Linked DNA regions of Homo sapiens: region 2 is linked to region 1. The links come from fine-mapping of genetic effects on gene expression. A gene starts in region 1. The other region holds a variant in brackets. All regions are shown on one strand. Distances are from middle to middle.

Evidence for each region.
Region 2: its variant is fine-mapped to the expression of IL12RB2 in blood mononuclear cells (TOPMed, PIP above 0.99).

What each region holds. Positions count from the first base shown.
Region 1 is chr1:67,298,373-67,315,360 of GRCh38, forward strand. IL12RB2 (interleukin 12 receptor subunit beta 2) reads left to right here and starts at 9,501. Exons shown (of 17, transcript NM_001374259.2): 1 at 9,501-9,595; 2 at 15,541-15,628. RefSeq lists enhancers at 8,724-8,823, 8,854-8,903 and a silencer at 9,364-9,553.
Region 2 is chr1:67,325,197-67,333,196 of GRCh38, forward strand. IL12RB2 (interleukin 12 receptor subunit beta 2) reads left to right here. Exons shown (of 17, transcript NM_001374259.2): 5 at 1,539-1,653; 6 at 3,004-3,188; 7 at 4,391-4,533; 8 at 5,464-5,614. Among named protein-coding and RNA genes, the nearest start is that of IL12RB2, 21 kb to the left of the region's middle. The variant A/C (reference allele first, on the strand shown) is at 4,039.

The DNA of each region.
Region 1 (16,988 bases):
GGTTGCACAACTGTGAAACTATTGCAAAAATGGTCTCGGTATAGTTTTAATGTGTATTTCTATTATTAATAGTGAAGTTGAACATCTTTTCATATATTTATTAGCCTTTCAGGTTTCTCCGCCTATGAATTGTCTATTTTTATCAATTACTTATTTCCTATTCATTTTCTTTTCTTTATCAATGTACAGGAGTTCTTTGTGCATTTTAGCTTCACTGAGATGCTTTACAGATTGGCAAAAATTAGAAAGTTCATGTGGCAGGCAGAAAAAAAATGACCTCCCAAAGAGATCTACATCCTAATCCCCAGAGTCTGTGAATATGTTAGGTTACATGACAAAAGAGAATTAAGGCTGCAGATGGGATTAAGGTTGTTAGTGAGTTGACTTCAAGATTGAGAGGTTATTCAGGTGAGCCCAATGTAGTCACAAGCATTCTTGTACTATGGAAGAAGGAGTGAGAAGAAAGAGTGTTAGAGTAATAGGAGGTGAGAAGGATTTGACTGGCTATTGCTGTGTTTGCAAATGGAAGGAAGCCATCATAAGCCAGAGTGCCAGTAGCTGTAGCAGCTAGGAAAGGCAAGAAAAAGAATTCTCTCCTAGAGGCACCAGAAGAGAATGCAGCCCTGCCAACACGTTGGTTTTTAGCTCAACCATACCCATTTCAAACTTCAGACCTTCAGAACTGTAAAAGTTTGTATTGTTGTAAGCCAGTAAGTTTTTTTGTTTTTTTGTTTGTTTGTTTGTTTTGAGATGGAGTCTCGCTCTGTCACCCAGGCTAGAGTGCAGTGGCGCGATCTTGGCTCACTGCAAGCTCCGCCTCCTGGGTTCACACCATTCTCCTGCCTCAGCCTCCCAAGTAGCTGGGACTACAGGTGCCCACCACCACGCCCAGCTAATTTTTTGTATTTTTAGTAGAGACGGGGTTTCACCATGTTAGCCAGGATGGCCTCGATCTCCTGACCTCGTGATCCGCCCACCTCGGCCTCCCAAAGTGCTGGAATTACAGGCGTGAGCCGCTGCACCCGGCCATAAGCCAGTAAGTTTGTAGTAATTTGTTGCAAAGCAACAGGAAACAAATAAAGTTGGATAAGACAAAATTCTGGAAAGGATGTGGGCAAACATATTTTTATGTGGTACTCATATGAATGCCAACTGGCACAGCCAATTTTGGAGAGCAATGTGGTAGTACTTAGTACAATTGAGTGGGTGCATCTCTTATGACCCAGCACTTCTGTTTCTGGATACACACCTCATAGAAACACCCAGATATGCACACAAGGGACATACATTAGGATGTTCTTTTATCAAGGTATTATTTGTGGTAGCAAGGAATTGGAGGCAACCTAGAAGCCCATCAATATGAGCATGGCCATGTAAATGTGGCTTATGCTGGTGATGGAATGCTATGCAGCAGGCTGAAAGAATGAAGCTACTTGTAGCAACATGGATTGACTATAAAAACATAATGTTGATGGAGAAAAAACTTAAAAGCAGTATTAAATCTATAACATACTACCATTTATTTAAAATTTTAAAGCATATAGCAATGTATTTTATCACAGATCCATATGTATGTAAATAAACACAAGGGATGTGAATTGGGAAGATATTTATAAATAAGAGTGTCAATGGAGTAGAAAGAAGAATAGCATTGAGATGAATGATAAATGAAGGGAAAAGAAAATAAGATAAAACAAAAAATTAAAAGGGGATGTGGATTTAAAAAGACAATTGCGTACTGTGAACTCCGTATACTGACAATTTTACTCAACCCAATTCTGTACATCTAGGGCAGGGCGCGGCAACTTTTCTTTAAAGGGCCAGATAACAAATATCTTAGGCTTTGCAGGTCATGCAACATTCACAATCTCAAGGGTTCAGTAGAAAAAAGCTACTAGATGGGCAAAGAAGCACAAATAATAAGACTCATAACTAGGAGAAAAGTCAGCAATAGAAACAGACCCAGAAACAACAGAGATAACAGAAATAGCAGACAAGGATTTTACAACTATTATAAAAATCTCAAGGATTTAAAGAGAAAAACTAATAATAAGAGAAACTGAAACTATAAAAAATAAATGGAATTTCCAGAGCTGAAAAATACTTTAATATCTTACTTATGTAAAAAACTAATTGGATGGATTTCACAGATTTGACACTGCAGAAGAAAAAGCAATGAACTTGGAGATATAGCAATCAGCAAACTGAAGCAGAGAAAAAAAGGACTGAAAAAAAAGTGAATAGAGCCTCAGTGACCTGTAGCACAGTATCAAACACACCAAAATTGTGTAATTAGAATCTAGCGATGGTAGGCAGAAGAAACAACTGAAGAAATAAATCTGAAAAGTTTTCCAAATTTGGCAAAAACTACAAAACCACAGATCCAAGAAGCTCAATAAATACTAAGCAGAATAAACACAAAGGAAACCACACCAAGGCACATCATAATATAATAGTTGAAAGTCCATTATAAGGAGATCTGAAAGGCATTAAGAGAAAAAAAATTACAGGAATGCAAGATTAGACTTAACACTGACTTCTCAACAGAAACGATGCAAGCCAGAAAACTATGAAATAATATGTTTAATATGCTGGGAGGAGGAGAAGTAAACCTAGAATTTTACATACAGTAAAAAAAATTCTTCAAAAATGAAGGCAAAATAAAACAATTTTTAAGAACACAAAAGCTAAGAAAGTTTGTCAAGAGCAGACCTGTCCTATAGGAAATATTAAAATAAGTTCTTTAGGCTGAAGGGAAATGATACCGGCTGGAAACTTTGATCTATACAAAGGAATAAATAGCACTTGCAATTGTAAATATATGAGGAAATATAGAAAATTTTGGGTTTTATATTTTTTAATTTTTTAAAAGATAACTAAGTAAAGCAAAAATAGTAATAATGTATCATGGGGCTTAAAACATAAATGAAAGTAAAATGTACAATCAAATAGTACAAAAGATATAAGGATAGAAGCATACTGTTGTAAAGTTTTTGTATTATACATAAACTGGCCTACTATTTGAAGGTAGACTGTGATAGATGAATAATAATACATATTTTTAAACTATCAGACATATGAGAAGATGTTTGCAGTCAAAGATACACAGTGTAAGGCAATGAAATATCATTTTTTACATGTTAGATTGATAGATTGATAATTACAGAAGATTTATAGCATTCACTATTAGTGATAATGTGGCATGCTAGTGGAAGTATGAATTACTATAATTTGGATAGTAATGTGGCATAATCCATTAAAGAGAAAAAGCTCATATCCTTTGATTCAACAAGCTACATGTGAGATTATGTTACCCACAAATAAAAGCACCATATATTTGTACAAGTATATGTGTAAGAATATTTTTATTTTGGTGAATATGCTGCATTTTGGGGGAGACAAGGGGGCAGGTGGGAATTAGAAACCTGAAGACCTGTAAATAAGAGAATGGTTGACTAAATCTTAGTACATGCATGGTATGGAATACTTGTAGCTATTGAAAAAAAAAATGAGGCCAGGCACGGTGGCTCATGCCTGTAATCCCAGCACTTTTGGGAGGCCGAGGCTCTACTAAAAATACAAAATACAAAAATTAGCAGGGTGTGGTGGCACATGCCTGTAGTCCCAGCTACTTGAGAGCTGAGGCAGGAGAATCATTTGAACCCAGGAGGCGGAGGCTGCAGTGAGCTGAGATCGTGCCACTGCACTCCAGCCTGGGCAACAGAGTGAGACTCTGTCTAAAAAAAAAAAAAAAAAAAAAAAAAGAGAGAGAGGAAAAAAGAAAAAAAATGAGAGCGCTACTACGTGCATTATGGAATGAAGTTTGTGTCATGTGGTAAAAGGAAAACGAAAGATAGATGGATGGACAGATAGGGAAATAGAATAGCTCAATTTGTTTAAACCTAGAATATATTTTCTGTATGGCTTAAATATAAAAGAAAAACCTAAAACGCTTTTATACGTCTATAAAGGCATGAAGAAAAATGTGGAAAGATTCTCGTAAAACTATTATTTGGGAAGGAGAGACTGGAGGGGAAAGGAAATATTATTAACATTTGATACTACTCTGCAGTGTTTGATTTGTAGAAAAGGATACTTAATTGAGATTCTTCCTGCCTCTTTAGCAGAGGTCCTACAGGCCAAAATAAAAAAACTAATGCATTCACCACTGAAGACAGTGGTACTTTGGACCAGTGACTTCTGGTGTGTCACATGCTTCTCTGTTTCCTAAGCTGAGCATTCATTGTCCCTGTTCCACCATTTTATATCCTTGGAGCGGGGCAGGGCGAGGTGGGAGGTGCAGGTAACCTGGGTTTTTTACTTGTTTGTTTATAGGCTGTGGACCCAGAGGAGGCATATCTCACTAGGTAGCCACCACTGCTCATTTTTCAGAGAGCTTGGATCTCAGCTGGATGCCATGACTGGACAGGACTTTGGGTTGTCTCATTTGGGAAATCAGAGTATTTTCTATGTATGAGAAGCATGGAAAAAAAGGACATTTGAAGCCAGAAGAGTGGAATGTAGAAAAGAATCTTAATGATTATACATCCACATTTCAGAGTACTTCTCATAGGGCTTCTGTTGATGTACTCTACAACAAACCAAAAACAAACAAACAACAACGACAACAAAAATGAGGAACATATGTGTGGTTTTATGTGGGAATGTTTGTGAGAAATTTGCCTTTTATGCAAATCACTCTCCTTTTTATAAGAACTTGCCAAAGTTTTGCACCACCAAAAGTTCTGGCTCTGATGATCAGGTAACCAGCCATGACATGATGGAATCTGTGAATCCTGTAACATATGTTTAGATTTAGCTGCTAAGAATAGCAGAGCCAGTTTGTGAATAAAGTTTATGTTGTGTAGGACCCTGCAGCTATCACAGCTTTAAATTTACCTCATGTCTCACTTTACTCTTTAACCTTTATGTTCATTTAACAAGGCATCCAGCAATCTAAAGACCTCTCAAAAACGCACTGCTGCTCTCCAAGACATGGCAATTTCCATGTGGTTTGTTCATCTTTTTTTTTTTTTTTTTTGGACAGAGTCTTGCTCTGTTGCCCAGGCTGGAGTGCAATGGTGCCATCTTGGCTCACTGCAACCTCTGACTCCCGGGTTCAAGCCATTCTCCTGCCTCAGCCTCCTGAGTAGCTGGGATTACAGGTGAGTGCCACCATGCCTGGCTAAGTTTTGTATGTTCAACAGAGATGGGATTTCTCCATTTTGGCCAGGCTGGTCTTGAACTCCTGACCTCAGGTGATCCACCTGCTTCAGCCTCCCAAAATGCTGAGATTATATGTATGAGCCACTGAGCCTGGCCAGTTTGTTCCTCTATAAACAATGTTTGTGCTTGTTAAATGTCAGTTGTGGAGAAGGTATAAGTCTACATTTTAAGAATTATGGAGATTATTCATAATCTGAGAATCTGGTATTGCACTATTTTAATTTTATATAAACTTTTTCAATACATAACACTACAAATATATTCAGGAGTTATGTTGCTGTCCTATAAGTTTAATACTTTGGAGAGATGAGTAAAACTAACAAAGTAATAACTTTTAGAAATGAAACTTTTACAAAATGAAGCAGTTAAGGTTGAACAGTTAATCTTAGATTCTGAGTTTTCTCATTATAAGTAAAAGTTTAAAATGATGTTAAAACCGTCTTACCAAGTTTAACGAGTGCCAGCATTCATTTGATGCCCTAAATGACTATGTTAGCAACCACCTCCTAGTATTTATCCTGACAAGTGACACTTTAGGAAAAGCACATCTCAGTTATTCATAGAATAGTGTGATTACGTATTTTCAGGGTGTTTGGTATCAGCAATGAACCAAATTAGACATTTAAAGTAATGGAACTATACCAGAAATGGAAACTGAACTAGTATTTCCTAGAAAAGACTTTGTCACTGTCACTGTGGTTATCCACTTAATTGAGCTTTTGATTTACAAGTACATTCATTTACCTAACAGCTACACAGAAGACCATATCATACCCATAGACTTAAAAATGATTACATTAACAATCACAGTTGACATTTTGGGTTGTATATTAGGCTCTTGCTTCATCAGGCATCGTCTACCATCTAGGGTTTATTCTTTAGAAAGCACAGAAGCAAGTTTGTCTTTGTTGTTATTTTTGTTTTCATTGTTATTTTTGTTTTTGTTTTTTTCTCTAACTAGACAGGCAACCACTGACAAAAGCCATGCCTGTATTAGTGAAACTCCCAGATATTAATAGGAGGAGAAGGCAGAAAAAAGAAGTGGGGAAATAGAAAGGCCTCTACAGATGGTGATTTCATACAGAAAGGTTACCGACTTGCTAAGAAAAATTATATTTAATTTTCCAACTAATTTTTAACTGTCGAAAAGTGTGAAGATTGAACAACACCTACAATCCCGTTGAACTGGCCAAAAAGAATGGGATCTCTCCAGAACAAGTCAGTTCAACTCAGTAAATACTTATTGACTACCTGCCCTGTACCACTCAGTGTGCCAGATGCTGAAGATGAGGGATCCTTGCGTGCATAGAGTTTATAATCCAGGGAGCATGCAGGATAAGAGAACCACTGTTATCAATGGCAATCAGTGCAAGTCTTCACTTGATAATGTAAGTCTAAGTTAAACAATATACTGATGGACCTAGAGCATGATAATTTCTCAAATAATACTTATGTAAGAGTTGTCATCTTCTGACTTTTTTTTTCTTGCATCTAGGGAAAAGAAGAGAATAAAGAAGATTATCATTGCTACCTGCATCTTACTGTATTCTCATAATTTGTTGTGCTTGCTTAACAACCAGATTCAAGTTCTTTCCTCAACAGCTCTCATCTGTTCCCTCAAAGAATATGCCTTAGATGCATTTGAGACACCATTTTGTGTCTGACTTCTGCAATTTTGTAAGATGCTGCCATTAGAAGTTAATAGAGCAGTGGTCTTTCAACATTTTAGATGGTATACTCCTTCAGAAAAAAAAAAAAAGCATTTTTGAGAAACATCCCCAACATATGTTTGGTTGTTTTTTTATTTCCTTGAAAAACATATGTATGCCGGGCGCGGTGGCTCACGCCTGTAATCCCAGCACTTTGGGAGGCTGAGGTGGGCAGATCACGAGGTCAGGAGTTTGAGACCAGCCTGGCCAATATGGTGAAACCCCATCTCTACTATAAATACAAAAATTAGCCGGGCATGGTGGCGCGTGCCTGTAGTCCCAGCTACTCAGGAGGCTGAGGCAGGAGAATCACTTGAACCCGGGAGGTGGAGGTTGCAGTGAGCTGAAATTGTGCCACTGTACTCTAGCCGGGGCAACAGAGTGAGACGCTGTTTCAAAAAAAAAAAAACAGAAAAACATATGTATATTTATATGTGTGTATATACACACACACACATATGCACACACAAATATATAAATTAAATTTTTAAATGAGATAGAGTAAAATGCATTTTTGAAATTATTGATTTATTAACAAAACTAAAAGCCTTCCTTCTCACTAAAAAGTGTTGAAAAATCCATGAATTATGCAAGATTGTTATAACATTTGGCTATCATAATCTTATTCTTGATATCAATCAGTTTTTAAAGTAATGAGAAGCTGCTGCATTTTTATATTTTTTAACAAATGGATTTAAAATCCACTGAACTGCTCAATTAAAAGATTGAAACAAAATAGCAAATTGTTTCCGAGTTTTTAAAAGCATTTTCTGTGATGACAATCATAAAATCTTCAGTAAGAAAAACACACAATAATGGGAACACTTCGAAATATTTGTTTTCAAATCGTCTCTTCATAACAACGTATCACTTGGTGTGAAAATTACCTTGAAGAAACAACAAATAAACCTCTGGGGTTTTTTGTTCTTCAAAAAGATCTATTAGATAACATGTACTGAGAGCCATATATCAATACAGAAAAGATCAGCAAATTTAGGATATTTGGGGTTTTTTTGTAAAAATAAAGAAAATAACTCACTTTAAGACAACTTTTAAAATCTTTGTTACAAATGATTTCTACAATTATGTATCATCTCATTACAAAGTAATATTAAGATTCTAGATTCTACGATTTAAAAGATTTTAGTAAAATTATTCATGTAGATAAATTACTAAAGCATGTAAACTACAGTATGTCACAATCCCATAAAGACAATCTACTGTACATTGTTGATTCCAAGATGTACATTTTTCATATTTAACATCTCAAACATTGAGAGCGGTTTTAAGGTAATGCCCAGAAGCGTGGTATGCAGTTGTCCACTTCTGCGGGCTCAGCAAACCTGTACTGGGCTCAGTGGACTAGAAGAAAACTCCAGAGACAACGGGGTGGGGGAGGGGGGGGGACTTAAAAAAAAATTCGATAGATAATATACATATGTTTAAAATCTAAATTTTATTTAGAGATATCTAAATAAAATCTCTAAACTAAATAAAATTTTAGTTTAAAAGATTCTAAATGTTGAGAAAGCATTGTTATTGTTTACCTGGCAGTTCTTTTTATTTCTTACTAGCGCATAAATAATGGTATATCTTATAATTAAGGAAGTCTTAGATTTAAAGAAATCTAAGCTGACGGGTGCAGAGGCTCAGGCCTGTATTCCCTGCACTTTGGGAAGCCAAGGCGGGAGGATTGCTTGAGGCCAGAAGTTTGAGACCAGCCTGGGTAACAGAGTGAGAGTCTGTCTTTACAGGTTTAAATACAGTTTTTTTCTAAGTAATATTGTCATAAATATTATGTCATGAATATTATGCAGAGCTGCCGACCCCTCTGTACTCTGGGCAGTTTTCCCTCTTGCCTGAGAACACCACTTATAACACGGGACCTATACGGGAGTGGTGACACGCCATCTGTTCAAGTTTAACTTTTTTCTCATTTTTTAGACAGCAAATACAAATGGAAGTTCCAGTATGTTCTGCCCGCACTCCAGTGGGCGGTCTTGTGCACAGCCCACTTGGGAGGCCTCGGCGCTCAGGTGTGGTAAGAGCTGGGCGGTGCAGAGCACAGAGAAAGGACATCTGCGAGGAAAGTTCCCTGATGGCTGTCAACAAAGTGCCACGTCTCTATGGCTGTGAACGCTGAGCACACGATTTTATCGCGCCTATCATATCTTGGTGCATAAACGCACCTCACCTCGGTCAACCCTTGCTCCGTCTTATGAGACAGGCTTTATTATCCGCATTTTATATGAGGGGAAACTGACGGTGGAGAGAGAATTATCTTGCTCAAGGCGACACAGCAGAGCCCACAGGTGGCAGAATCCCACCCGAGCCCGCTTCGACCCGCGGGGTGGAAACCACGGGCGCCCGCCCGGCTGCGCTTCCAGAGCTGAACTGAGAAGCGAGTCCTCTCCGCCCTGCGGCCACCGCCCAGCCCCGACCCCCGCCCCGGCCCGATCCTCACTCGCCGCCAGCTCCCCGCGCCCACCCCGGAGTTGGTGGCGCAGAGGCGGGAGGCGGAGGCGGGAGGGCGGGCGCTGGCACCGGGAACGCCCGAGCGCCGGCAGAGAGCGCGGAGAGCGCGACACGTGCGGCCCAGAGCACCGGGGCCACCCGGTCCCCGCAGGCCCGGGACCGCGCCCGCTGGCAGGCGACACGTGGTGAGTGACCAGTGACTCGGGGTCGGGGACAGAGAGAGCCCCAGGATCCCGGACCAGCGGGGTGTCTGCGTGCCCGGGATTCCGTGTCTCGCGTCTCCCGAGGGGGCTTCGGCGACGGCTTCTCTCTTTATATATATATATGTATATATATATTTTTAAAGTCTTCCAATACGATCCGAAATGGCTTCTCTTCATCACAGTCCTAACGCCCTGGGCACAGATGTTCACTTGGAGGTACTGGGTGGTGGTTTGGCTGGATGGAGGGGAGGGAGCGCGCGGACTGAGCCTCCAAGGTACTCTCTGGGCCGGGGCACAGAGTGGTGGGCTCAAACGGAAGGGAGGGGACGGCGACTGGAAAAGGGCAGAGGGCACCCCTGAGGGTCCAGCCTTGGTTCAGGCCCACAGACGTGGCTCCCGTTGCTTGAAAATGTATCAAATGTGAGTAAGATATTGGGGGGGGCCTTCCGTAGTCCCGGATGAGGGTGAACTAACCTTGTCTCAGCAGTCTTTCCTGTGGCCTCTGGACTGACCCCGAGTCCCTGCCTGGCCAGTTACTAGCAAGATGCTCTGGTGCAAGCAAATTGGCCAGCCTCAGTTTTCTCTTCTGTGAAATGCCCCTTCCTTTGTGAACTATGAGGCCCTCCTCATCTCCCTAGGACACACTAAATATCAGTGTCAGCATTGTACGGGATTATGTATCTGTACCATTAGATCCAGGTCTTACAAATAGTAACCTAAAAGCATACAAATAGACCTTGTCTAAGAACAGGGTCCCGGCACGGTGGCTCACGCCTGTAATCCCAGCATTTTGGGAGGCCAAGGTGGGCAGATCACTTGAGGTCAGGAGTTCAAGACCAGCCTGGCCAACATGGTGAAACCCTGTCTCTATTAAAAATACGAAAATTAGCTGGGCATGATGACGCACACCTGTAATCCCAGCTACTCGGGAGACTGAGGCAGGAGAATTGCTTGAACCCGGGAGACAGAGGTTACAGTGAGCCAAGATGGGGCCACTGCACTCCAACCTGGGCAACAGAGCGAGACTCTGTCTTAAAAATAAATACATACATACATATACATATATATATATATACACACACACACATACACATATATATATAAAGAATAAAGCTAAATTAGTCCTTTTTTCCCCATTTTTAAAACTCTAGATAATTGTTATAATCTGCTATGTGTGTGCTCTGTGTAGATGAACATCTTTGTTGAGCACCTACTATGTATTTGGTTTTTGGATATATATTATCTAATTCCTTAAAAACATGGTGAAATTGTTATTAGTATTCCCATTTTACAGATGTGGAAACTTACATGTTTCACACAGTTAGAGAGTTACAGGTTTCTGGCTCAAAACTGTGTTCCTTCTGTTTCCACCTCTCTGGCTCAGAACCTTATAACCACCTCCACTTGAACAAACAAACGTTGGATTCTCATTTTCCATTAATAGGAATGGTACAGTGCCCTATTTCTCTGTCCAACACATAACTAAAAGGACCTTAGTGGCTAAGAGCTAACACTTTCCTTCCCTATTTTAATGTGAAATCCTCAATACATTACACTATCTGTTAGGCACAACAGCCTCCAGAAAAGTTTGCAATATGCTCTTTTCCATATGTCATGCCTCTTGAATGTCATGTTCATTACATAGGCTGATAAATTCCCAAACTTTGACAAACGGAATCTTTTCTGTATTAGAATGAGTTTTAGTGTGAAAAAAAATTCGAAAGCACACATGTAATTTTTAAGGTAGAAGAATCCGCCAAGTACAGTAGGTATTGGGCATCATTTCTCAGTTGTGGACTTATTTTTGTATTGCTGCACCTGCTTTGTTCTCTACCAAATTATTTGTCATCTTTGTAATTACGCTCACAGCACTGCTGTCAACTCCTACAAATAAATTTGTGCAGAATGGCGGGACACGGTGTCTCATACCTGTAATCCCAGCACTTTGGGAGGCCGAGGTGGGGGGATCACCTGAGGTCAGGAGTTTGAGACTAGCCTGACCAACATGGCGAAACCCTGTCTCTACTGAAAACACAAAAATTAGCGGGGCATGGTGGCACACACCATGTGGCATGGTAATCCCAGCTACTCGGGAGGTTGAGACAGGAGAATCGATTGAACCCGGGAGGCAGAGGTTGCAGTGAGCAGAGATCACGCCACTGCACTCCAGCCTGGGCGACAAGAATGAAACTTCATCTCAAAAAAAAAAAAAAAAAAAAAAAAAGCCAAATCCCAAAGGAAGTCTTATACAATTTCCTTTGCCCTTGGAAGTTTCTAGTGTTCTTCGCTAGTGTAACAGTGGTTTGTTTTTGTTTTTGTTTTCCAAATAAGTATTGAACATGTACATTATGGTCAGTGCATTTGCTGGACTTAGACTTAGTGAATATAAAGAAATGTAAGGCCCAGTTCATGACCTACGAAGTCAAAATTGTTTGGGAAAATTTTGAGAATACTTAATATGTCTTAAATGATAGGTGGCATGAAGTTAGGAGGTATGGAATCTAGTTTTAATCAAATCAGTCTTTCAGTGTTAAATCAGATGAATGGGCAAAGAGAGGAGTCAAAAGCAAGGCCATCTAACTTAATTCTCGTAGTGTCACTGAAAAGAAGTAATACTGCCTTTTTTCTTATAATAATAGCAGGTAACATTGATTGAGCTCTTGCTATATACCAGGTACTCTGCTAACAGCTTGTCATTTAACCCTCCCAACAATCCTGTGAGATAGGTGCTGGTTTTTTGTTTGTTTGTTTTTTGTTTTTGAGACGGAGTCTTGCTGTCGCCAGGCTGGAGTGCAGTGGTGCGATCTTGGCTCACTGCAACCTCTGCCTCCCGGGTTCAGGTGATTCTCCTGCCTCAGCCTCCCAAATAGCTGGGATTACAGGCGCACACCAGTATGCCCAGCTAATTTTTGTATTTTTAGTACAGACGGAGTTTCACCATGTTGGTTAGGATGGTCTCGATCTCTTGACCTCGTGATCTGCCCGCCTCAGCCTCCCAAAGTGCTAGGATTACAGGTGTGAGTCACCACGTCCGTCCAGTAGGTGCTGTTTGTATTCCCTTTTTACAGATGAAGGAACTTAGGCTGAGTGGTCAAGTGATTTGTCACAGGCCATATAGCTGGAATTATCCGAGCCAAGACTTAGGTGTCCTGGGCGGATCCACTGCTCTTTTCATTACTACTACAGTTGCTCAGGAGGCTCTTCTGGGAGCTTGGACTGAGGTGATGAGCGTAAACATGGTTCAATGCCTCTTGGAGGTAGTAGCTTTGTGGGTTTAACATGGGAGCCCTGAGGCATGCTGAGAATAAATGAGAGGGGTAAGCCTGTTCCTGCAGAATTTAAACCGATAGAAGAGGGAAAGCAGTTAGACTAACAGAGCATCAAGCTTGGATTTTTATTTCTCAGGTGCTCATGGAGAAGGGAAGCATAGAATGTAATTCGAATCCAATTCTGGATTTATGTGTGGTTTTTCTGGGTTATCTTGGTCAACTTACAGATTTTTCTATCTGTAGAATAGGATACTAATCATTACTTTATGTATTTGACCAAATATTAACAACTAAATTATATGCTTTGCACAGTGATAAACTACTAAGTAAATGCCTACAAAAGATTGTTAAAATTAGAATCTTAATTAACCTCTATTTTGCAATGATATGCAGGAAAAGCAACACATTAAGTAAAATATCAGGAGATACTGAGATGGAGGGTTGTTAGTGTAGAGACTTCAGCTGAATTCTTAATTTATATGAGAAACCTGGGGAAACATTGTGGCATGGTGATCACTACCCTTAGTTTTTTAATTCCCCTCCCAAGTGTGCCTCCAATTATCTTAAGATAATTGTGAAATTCTTAGAAAATTCTCAAAACAATGCAATTATCTTAATATGTTAATGCCTTGTAGTACTTTATGAAAATACTCAGTGGTTGCTTACAAGGTGAAGCAAAACTTGGCCAGGACTTTGCAATACCCAAGATCCAAAGATAAACCTCCTGCCATTGTCCACAAACAGAGACTTCCAGATTGAGGATGTCAAAGAAAAAACCTTTCCAATACACTAAGGAAGAAAAGTTAGTGAAAGAGGTTTAGTTTTCTCAATAAAGGTCAATTGCTATTTTTAAAATAAGGAAAGGAGGCTTTGAAGTATGAAGTTACCTGCCATGGTGACAGAGGCAGAAATGGAGGAACCAAGGATGGTGCCCGGGGCCTCTTTCCAGCACATCATCCTTCCCAATAGAAGACAGCTTATTTTATCGATAGGCCTAGCAGGATACAGAGAGTGAATCAGAGAAGGCTGGAGTTTCCGAAGCTTTATTGAACACTTGCCATGAAAGTTTTAGGCTTATGGGAGCTATTCAAAGAAAGAAAAGAGGTCATGTAGTTTATTTGAAAGTGTCTTGTTTCTCCAAGACTCCATTCGTATCTTGTTTCTTTCTTTCTTTTTACTGTTATATTGGAGAAATGCTTGTTCAATCTATAGGATAAAATAGTTCTCAGTACAGATGATTGAGGGGTTGGGGTGGGATAAATTCATTTCAACTCTGATTTGTTTACGCACAACATTTCAGGAGTCTATTATGTCAAATGGGATGTATCTAAAATGGAAATAAAGACAAACAGAATTGACAGAAACAACATTCCAGAAAAAATAGGAAAAGAAGAGAGAAAAGAATAAAGGAAGTTAAGAAAAAAAAAAAGCCATAAAGAGGGAAAGGAGAAAACACATTGAATTTAAAAAAAAAAAAAAAGGAACAAAAATTCGGAAGTCTCCTGAATTTGAGCAAGAAAAGAAAGTTCCTGTACTTGGGTGAAATTAAAGAGGAACCATAGGACAGCAAATGCTTACCAATGAAATTAGAGAAAATTCCAGGCAGCCTCGTCAGCTGCACAAAAAGGAAAACAAGTGTGTGTGTTAAATTTGGCTCATGTAAACAGTGCTTGGACTATTGAATAGAAAGAAGAAAAAGTAGAAAAGGTTATGCATTTTACTTTCCTTCCCCTTCAAGCCATTTACCATGACATTATGAATGGGGCCGGTTTGATGATGGGGCCTGATAGACGGGCTTTTGCCCATGTAATGGCTTGTTACATTCTTTCACCAAATGGTAGACTTGGAATGAAAAACAGTTCATTTTCATGACCATAACTCAGGAAATTTCATGAAGAAGAGAAGGTTAGCTAATTGGTAACTTGATTTGATTATCCTTTTCCATCACCATAGTGGAATAGCATCAGATACGGTTACATATTGTATGTGCGCTGAGTTTTGTTGTTTCATCCTCTTTTGAGGGAGGTGGGCCTCAGAAGTAATGAGTCAACCTTCTGAAGAGTAAAGCATTAGGCATTATAAATGCTTTACTAGATAGATATCATAAAGATTGTATGTAAGGTGCCTAGCATCGTGCCTGAAACATAGTAAGAGATCAAAAAATTGCAGCATTAGTATTAGTATAGTGTTAAGATTAGCATTATTTTTAGTATTATGCTGCTACTGTTGCTATTGATTACAAGCAGCCTCACATCTAGAAGTGATGTTGGATTAGAAATCAGGAGACTGGCCGGGCACGGTGGCTCATGCCTGTAATCTCAGCACTGTGGGAGGCCGAGGCAGGCAGATCACCTGAGGTCAGTTCAAGACCAGCCTGGCCAACATGGTAAAACCCCATCTCTACTAAAAATACAAAAATTAGCTAGCCAGGTGTGGTGGCGCATGCTTATAGTCCCAGCTGCTCAGGAGGTTGAGGCAAGAGAATCGCTTGAACCCAGGAGGTGGAGGTTGCAGTGATCCAAGATGGTGCCATTGCACTCCAGCCTGGGTGACAGAACGAGACTGCATCAGAGAGAAAGAGAGAGAGAGAGAGACTGAGGTTCTGATCTGGATTTTGCTATTAATGTGAACTTGAGCAAGTCCCCTCTTTTTTTCTAGGTCACGGTGATCCATTTGTAAAGTCGGGAATAAATGACCTCTGAAGTGTTGTCTGTATATTGATCTGCTACCAGTAAAACATATCTCTGTAAGTAGCTTTGCAGGCAGAAGGGAAGAATTTTGTTCTTTGCCTCATTTAGTCACCTGATCATTAACGACATTCATTTATATGACAACCAGCCTTGAGGCACACTTGAAACAATCATTTGGTTGTCTGTGGTAGCCCAGACTGAAATGTCAGCTGTTGGAGGGGAAGGGAGCAGCAGGGCACAGTAGTTACTAGTAACTCGTGTAGCTCCTTCCTCCCCTGACTTTTTAAGTTCTTTGATGGTCTTAGGAATTAAGATTTTTTTTACCTGGCCTAACAAAACATACAACTCTAGTACACTGAAAATCATATGTGATTTAGCAAAGAAATACAAACGAGGGAATCAGCAGGGGAAATAGGAACCAGCCTCAGTGGGGTTCTTACTTTGTGCTAAGTATTCTCATGAATCCATGACACCATGGACTGTTCACAATAACTTTGCCTTAATCGTCACCGTAACTTTGTCGAGCTAGGTATTACTATACCTACTGTAAGGCATGAGGAAATGGTGCTCTCACAGTCAATAGCATATAGCAGAACTGAGATTCATTCACCTTTTTCTTTTCCTTAATACCACTATTTCCCTTGACCTTAATACAGTGCTACAGAAGAAAAATAATTTGGAAGTAGAAAGTTTTTCTGCCAACATGAGATTATCACCTGCGAAAGGAAACTTAAGAGTTTCTTTTTTCCTAGCCTAGCACAATACAATTTTGAAGTAGCTTCATGCTTTGTGCTTCTCTCTAGAGCAATGGGGAAAGAGGCTGGTCAGGGAGTAATTGTTGTCTCTGTCTTCCTACCGGTCGGTGTATTTCTGGCTTGTTCCCGCCCACCCCACCCCCATCCCCGATCTGAGACGTTGTTTTCACCATCTGGAAACTGTCACAACTTGAGTGATGAGTCAATGACATAGCACACTCTTTGATTTTCTGATTCAAGACAGAGTTGTTGTTTTAATATTTACCCTCTAGGCAGGGTATGTGAAGGATGTTTACAGTTACAGTAGGTTTCATTTTATTGGAAGATACCTCATTTACTTGAAGGTCTTTGGGGATTCTGAACTTCTCATAAAAGGAGAAGCTATTTTTACCTGGTAGTCAGAGAAAATGAGCAAGTTTGTGTTTGGATCAATGTACCATTATATAAACTCAAATTTATCTTCCATTTTACCTATTTCATATAAATATGTATGTTTATATAATATACACATATATTTTAACCTATTTAATAATAGGACATAATATATATGAAAACATATTTCATATATATCCATTTTTTTAAATCCTTATAATTATCATATGAGTATTTTACTATTTGGAGAATGTTATAGCTTCATAAATTTTGATCCATGTTGAAAATT
Region 2 (8,000 bases), 22 kb after region 1:
ATTTATTGGCAACATTCCTTTATTCTACTTCCAGCAAGAGCCTCCAGTGGTTTTGTGTTGTTGTTGTTTTTTTCTTTCTTTTTTGAGGCAAAGTCTCACTCTGTCACCCAGGCTGGAGTGCACTGGCACAATCTCAGCTCGTCGCAACCTCTACCTTTTGAGTTCAAGTGATTCTCACGCCTCAGCCTCCTCAGTAGCTGGAATTACAGCATGTGCCACCATACCCAGCTAATTTTTGTATTTTAAGTAAAGAAGAGGTTTCACCATGTTGGCCAAGCTAGTCTCAAACTCCTAACTTCAAGTGATCTGCCCACCTCAGCCTCCCAAATTGTTGGGATTACAGGCGTGAGCCACCGCATCCAGCGAAAAGAGACTTTTTTAAAGGAAAAGTTTATTATTCTATTAAAACTATATGAGCTAGATATCATTATACCCATTTTATAGATTCAACTGAAGCTCTGACTTGTCCAAGGTCACACAGTGGGCATTCCTGTGCCTATGTCTATGGTGGATGCTAAGGACAAAAAAGATATTTATTTAATCAATAACAGATTTTTTCAGTGTAGACAATAGCTAGGACTTCTGTAGTATACTCATTTTATCTAACCTAAAGGAAATATGTATCTACACGTGGGTCTGGGTATTAGGGTAAAATGGGATGACTGAATAGCTGAGTATTTCTCTTACCTCCATTTTGTCCAAAAAATTCCTAGTTTGGGTCCTTTCACCATAAAATAGCTTTATTTAAAAATACACACCTTACAATAGAAGGGACCATGCTTGCTTTGTACATCTTTGTATTTCCACATCTAGCACTGTGCTTGGCTCGTGGGAGGTACTCAATGCCTATGTACACAAAAGAATTAATTTATAAATGTCCATAAAGTGCTCCAAGAGACAATGCAGAAATTAGATTTAGATGGTATAGCCCGGGAGGACATGACTGAGGCAACTGGGTGTAAGTGTCTTGACAGCAAATATCAGGTGAAGAAAGCAAATAAGTCTCTCATTTTTAAAGGTTTCTAATATTTGAATGGGCATCACTCTAAAAGAAATTAATTTATTATTACCAGGGGTAATGGAGCTAGCACTGGATGTTCACCTGTCAGGGAAAATGGTAGAATATGGAGTAAAAGGCTTGGACTTGAGTTACAGCTGAGCTGGAGCCTTGAATCTGCCACTTCATAATTTTATGATCTTGGGCCAGATATTTCACCTCTCTCAGTTTCCTCTCTGAAAAAAAATATAATAATAGTATCTACCTCATGGGGTGCTACGCTGTCTAATTCAGAAAAACTGCACATAGCACTGGGCTAGGCATATAGTATTTGATCCATATTCACTACTATTATTACTGTTTCTAGGAGAAATTTACACCTTAATGGCAAACTGGGACTTGAATGGAATCTAAAATAGCTTCTAGTTTACCTGGGTTTACGGCATGTGGGGGACGTATTGTCATGTTGATGGCAGATAATAACAATTCGGTTGAAATATCACCTGTGTGATATATAAGGTTTTGTCTTTTCTTTTTAAAGTTGCTCCAGAACAGCCTCAAAATTTATCCTGCATACAGAAGGGAGAACAGGGGACTGTGGCCTGCACCTGGGAAAGAGGACGAGACACCCACTTATACACTGAGTATACTCTACAGTGAGTGAGAGGCTGTATTTTTGCAGCTGTTTTGTAGATCTTCTCTTAAATGACATTTAGAAATATCTGTTTTCTTTATTTATTTTTATTTTATTTTATTTATTTATTTATTTATTTATTTATTTATTTTGAGACGGAATCTCACTCTGTCACCAGGCTAGAGTGCAGTGGCGCAATCTCGGCTCACTGCAACCTCTGCTTCCTGGGTTCAAGTGATTCTCCTGCCTCAGCCTCCTGAGTGGCTGGGATTACAGGCACCCACCACCACGCCCAGCTAATTTTTGTATTTTTAGCAGAGACGGGGTTTCACCATGTTGGCCAGGATGGTCTCGATCTCTTGACCTCGTGATCCACCCGCCTCAGCCTCCCAAAGTGCTGGGATTACAGGTGTGAGCCACGGTGCCCGGCCTATCTGTTTTATTTTTACCAGAAAGGAGAAGCAATAGATACTTCTAGACAATTAGATACTTTTTAAAGAGTTTCTATGTTTATAGTTAAAACTGGTTCATTCATCTACAGTATGAGAGACCGAATGTCTTGGGTCTGAGTTCTAACTCAGAGTTCTCTTCAGTGCATCCAAGATCCAAGTTATAGCTGTTCTTTCCCACTCTAGTAGGGTTAAACTGGCTGCATAAGATCGCTTCTCTTTTCTGCAGCTGTAGGCTCTTGGGGTCATGATACATAAATAAACTCTTCCTTGTGGTAGTTTCCCATTCGCTTGGATAAGTTTCTTTTTAAAGCACCATTGGCTGACCTAAGAGTCCATGAGAAGAGAGAGTCTGGGAGATTCTGTTCCTTGAAGTAGATTTCATGATCCCATTAAAGATCCAGCTGATTTGTGCTATTCCTGAGTGAGGAGGAGATGGAGGAAAGGAGGGGTTCTGTAGTACATTTACTTTTTCTAACCTAAAGGAAACATCTATTGACACGCGGGTCTCAGTATTAGGGTAAAATAGCCCAGGATTCTACTCTGGCCACTGCTGTACTAGGAACTGACAATTCTGTGCCACAGATGTCAAGGTGGCCACAGTGCTTAGGATAATGTTTGGAACTGCCCTGGGGAGCCAAGATGACAAGCAGGGTTTGGGGAATTTCAGCAGCGTAGGCTTGGTTACCTATCTACATGAATGTGGAAGAACATCTCAGTTCTACCAAAAAAGGGAGTTGGGTGAAGTATAGTCTTACATGACCATATAGTACAAATATTCCCGGGGTGTATCCCCTAGTCATAAGATTGACCTTTAAAAATTGTCTAGAATTCTAAATATTTAAACATTTTGTTCTTTTCTACTGTAAGTAGAAAGTAGCACATAAAACATGTTGCTACACGTGGTTGTGTTTTGTTTACAGGCTAAGTGGACCAAAAAATTTAACCTGGCAGAAGCAATGTAAAGACATTTATTGTGACTATTTGGACTTTGGAATCAACCTCACCCCTGAATCACCTGAATCCAATTTCACAGCCAAGGTTACTGCTGTCAATAGTCTTGGAAGCTCCTCTTCACTTCCATCCACATTCACATTCTTGGACATAGGTACATTTTATTTCACTGTTTCATTGGTACTTTATAATTATTTTTAAAATCACTCAAATCTTTTTTATATGGTTGTTTCAAGAAAGACAGAGATTGATGGAAATTGGCCAACAGGCATAAGCAAAAGATAGAAGTTACTTTGATGCAAGTAAAAGGGTGCATTATTCTGAGCTATCTAAAGATGGCTATACAAAGTGGGATGTTCAACATTATTCTCTCTATTGAAGAAATTAGCCCCTGGATTCAAATCCCATGAAAGAACCAGCTACTAATGATACCACCTGACTGAGGAGAGGGTCCTGTGAGGTCATTCAAGATGCTCAGTGCAAGCCCTTCTTGGAGGAGGTGTCCTTTCGCCCCCATGGCTACTCCCATTGTTGTGAGATAGGCTACATGTGGGCCTGCTAGGCTAGAGCAGCGAGGTACAAACTATAAATAAAATTTCTCAAGTCACAGATGCATCTTGCTCTGAGAATACTCACCTCCATCCCTGGAGTGAGCCAGTACATTTCTGAGCAAATGTAATCGGTCCAGTTGAATCAGAGGCCAATCTCAAGCATTCCAAGTTCTGACCATCCAGGCAGAACTGGGCTGCCTGAAGTTCCAACCTCACACTATGTGCTTCTCGCCTCTCTTTCCATGGCACTTCTCTGCATACATATTGCTAACGATGAGTCTGATCATTGGCATTTACTATACACTTTTCCACCATATTTCTTCTCAGGCTTCCTCCCATTTCTTTCATAGACCGTTCATCTCTAGGCTACCTTCTCGCCCCCTTGTTCTTTTCCTCTGTCCCTTTGCTATGAATTTTCCTACGAACATTTCTTCTCCTCCTGAGGCAGTCATC[A/C]CTAGCCGTCTCTGGCTTCTCAGTCATTGGAACTCTTGGGTTTGGCACATTGGTTTTTGAAAAACCACTGGACTAAGTGTAGTTGAAACTTACCACTAATGTTGGTAGTAGTTATTTGGTGAAAATGAGATTTGATTAAGGGGGATTATTTTAAAGATTCAGAAGTGAATCCAGCTTTTAAAAAAGTTCTTTCTTAAAGCCTGGAACTTTTCTCTTGTATATTTTACCAAATTTGATGGTTGTGCATCTCAGAACTGAGTTTTGTCAAACTCTTTATAGCTCATGCCAGTACATAAGACAATTGCTGATCACAGATCCTGAACCACACTTTTTTGTTTGTCCTGGTTACTAGTGAGGCCTCTTCCTCCGTGGGACATTAGAATCAAATTTCAAAAGGCTTCTGTGAGCAGATGTACCCTTTATTGGAGAGATGAGGGACTGGTACTGCTTAATCGACTCAGATATCGGCCCAGTAACAGCAGGCTCTGGAATATGGTAATTATCTTTAGAGTGAAGGAAAAAACACTGAAGCATTCTTAATATTGCTGCGCAGACCTCTGTCTTTTCATACAGCAAAAAATAGAGTTTAAGAATATTTATCCCAAAAGTACACACGAGAGAATTATCAGAAAGTCATGTATGCCTCTGTTGATTAAGAAATATCTTGAATTTTGATCTCTGATTCTGAAATTTTTAAAGCTTTTGTAAACCAATATTAATTTTCTATAGTTTATTTCTAACAGAGGATTCATTTCTCCTTATTATTTACCCTGTCCTGTTATTATTTTTTAGCATTTAAAAAAGATATTGAAAAGAGAAATATTAAGAAATGTCCACAGAGAGTTATATAGAATTTAATATTCCAAAGAAAAGGTCTACAATTTAATATAATATTAGGCATTGCATGTTTTAAAATAAAAGGTATAGGATTATGATTCTTTCCGGGATTGTTGTAAAATTCAATGGCTTATAATAACAAAGGATCAGTCCCACAGATAGCTGATATTCAAGAGAGTATAACTAATTAAAGGGTTTTTTTAAAAAAAAAAAAAGCCAGTGCTATGTTTGTGTTAAAACATTCATCACATCCTAATTGTAATCAAATAAAAAATAATCTCTAGTGTAGAAACTTTGTAGTTTTCAATCTTATTTTTCAGCTGGTTTCAGGATTCCCCTCGAGAACCTACATAGATGGGTTCTTAGTACCCAGAGATTTTGTTTTATTTTTAATGAGATGCTATCATTTCAGATTAATATCATATCTATTCGGTAAGACAGTCACTGATATTTCTTCTCATTTAATGGTAGGTCTGAAAAACAAATAAGATCAAATAGCCTGGGTTTTTTTTTTTTCATTTTATGTTAAAATTCCTTAAATTAGCAATCTAGTATTAATAGGCACTTTAAAAAAATGTCTGTTTCAAGGTTAATGTTACAAAGGCCAAAGGAAGACATGATTTGCTGGATCTGAAACCATTTACAGAATATGAATTTCAGATTTCCTCTAAGCTACATCTTTATAAGGGAAGTTGGAGTGATTGGAGTGAATCATTGAGAGCACAAACACCAGAAGAAGGTATATGTCCAAAATATACATACCTATCGGGGAGCAATAAAGGGGAGAGAGGGGGGAAGATGTAATGATTTCCTTGGAATAGAATCTTTAAACTACTGGTGCTGAATCAAAAAGCATGACTGCATTAGTTAACAAGTTAATTTTTATATTAACTTAAGTGCTGAAACTGTTCAAGGAAATATGTTTGTGTTGCAAGGAAATTTTTAACATTGGGTAAGTTCTACTCCTGTTTGCTATCAGTCATGTTGGTTATAATGCTTGGTTATAACTTATCTCTCTTACTATCTCAGTAACTTATTTCACAGAGCTATAACCAGTAATTAATCTCATTTCTTGTTAAAGCTTCATATGTTTTATATTTTTGATTCTATGAAAAGTAATGTGGCTCAATAAGCCATATGGAAAGCTTGAAAGAAAGTAGGCTCTGGAGACACATATTTCAAAATAAAATTTAGCATCCAGCAATCCTCTCTTGTCCAAATATTATAACACTGTACTTCAAGCCTTTGATATTTACTGCACAAATGAGAACCACCTGGCCACCCATAACTATGAAAAGGATATCAAATGTGTTTTTCAGTCTGATGAATTTTTCTTTTTTAGTAATTATTGGGAAGGGAATGTTATTGAAGTATAAGAAAATATTTTATTGAAGCAAAAATGCCTATGTAAACTTTATGCCAATATTAAATCTTTGGAGACACAAGAAATAGCCATCTGAATATTAGTTTTTAAAAGCACTCATTTAGGCCGGCATGGTCGCTCAGGCCTGTAATCCCAGCACATTGGGAGGCTGAGGTGGGCAGATCACGAGGTCAGGAGTTCGAGACCAGCCTGGCCAGCATGGTGAAATCCCATCTCTACCAAAAAGACAAGAAATTAGCCAAGCATCGTGGTGCGTGCCTGTAATCCCAGCCATTCGGGAGGCTAAGGCAGGAGAATCACTTGAACCCAGGAGGCAAAGGTTGCAATGAGCCAAGATTGTGCCACTGCAATCCAGCCTGGGCAACAGATCGAGACTGCATCTCATAAATAAATAAATAAATAAATAAATGCACTCATTTAGTGATATAGTAGAGAGTCTTTCATAATTTATATAAATTTGACTCAGAGAAAAACTTTTTGGCATATAATCCATTGTTCATTATCTGGAGCTTTTGTAACATTAACGTGCAAAATCTAAATTCTTATTTGTGAAATTTATGGATATGTGTGCATGTAAACTAGCCTCATAATTAAGTTGCATTTATTTTCTGTGAGCTACTAATGGCTTTTGATAACTGATGATCCTTAGCAATCATACATCAATGACATTCAAGGAACGGAAGGGCCTTTAGCAGAATATAATACCTAATATATGATTCATAGAATAATCTTATATTCTTCCTTACTTCTTGTATTAATTGCATTTTTTTTTTTTTTTGAGACAGAGTCTTGCTCTGTCACCCAGGCTGGAGTGCAGTGGCACAATCTCAGCTCAGTGCAACCTCTGCCTCCTGTGTTCCAGTGATTCTCCTGCCTCAGCCTCCCAAGTAGCAGGGATTACATGCATGCGCCACCATGCCCGGCTAATTTTTGTTATTTTCAGTAGAGACAGGTTTCACCATGTTGGCCAGGCTGGTCTCGAACTCTTGACCTCAGGTGATCCACCTGCCTCGGCCTCCCAAAGTGCTGGGATTACAGAATATATTTTAAAAATTGTCTAAAAGTGAATTTATCCAACAAATGATAATTTATTACCACTCATTTTATAATAAAATCTCTTAATGTTGAACCACTTGCCCTCTGGTTGTTACTTTTATAATCCAGAGCTTACTCATAATATCGTTTTATTATATATAGTCAAAGTAATTTTTTTAAAGACTATCTCATGAATTAGATTTTGTTTATATATGTGGTACAGATAAAACTTCTGAAAATGGGCTATATTTTATATCCAAGTTCAAGGTAGTAAGTAGTCTGAAAAATATTTAAGTTATATCACATTAAGCTAAACTATAAACTAGGGAAACTCTGGGCTTGTGAATTCTTGTCATTCTTACTCACATATGATAATGACCTAGTTAGAGATGTGTGAAAAGGTTTTTCTTTTCTTTTTTAAAAAGTGTTTGTCTTTTGAATTAAAATTCCTTCAAGGCAGCACAGTAACTTTCTTATTTCCTATAAAATAAACCACCATCATAACAATGAGTATAGCAACTCATTATGGTTATGAACTCATGGATGATTATGAATTGAACCTAGGAAGCTGGCTTATTCAGTCACTGAAGGTATTCATAAAGAGAGAAACCCATACTCTGAGATACACCACCTTTACCAAGCTCTGTTGGCTTCCTTTCTGTCTCTGAATCTCCCTTTTCTATGTTTGATTTTTCTGTGGGTTGTT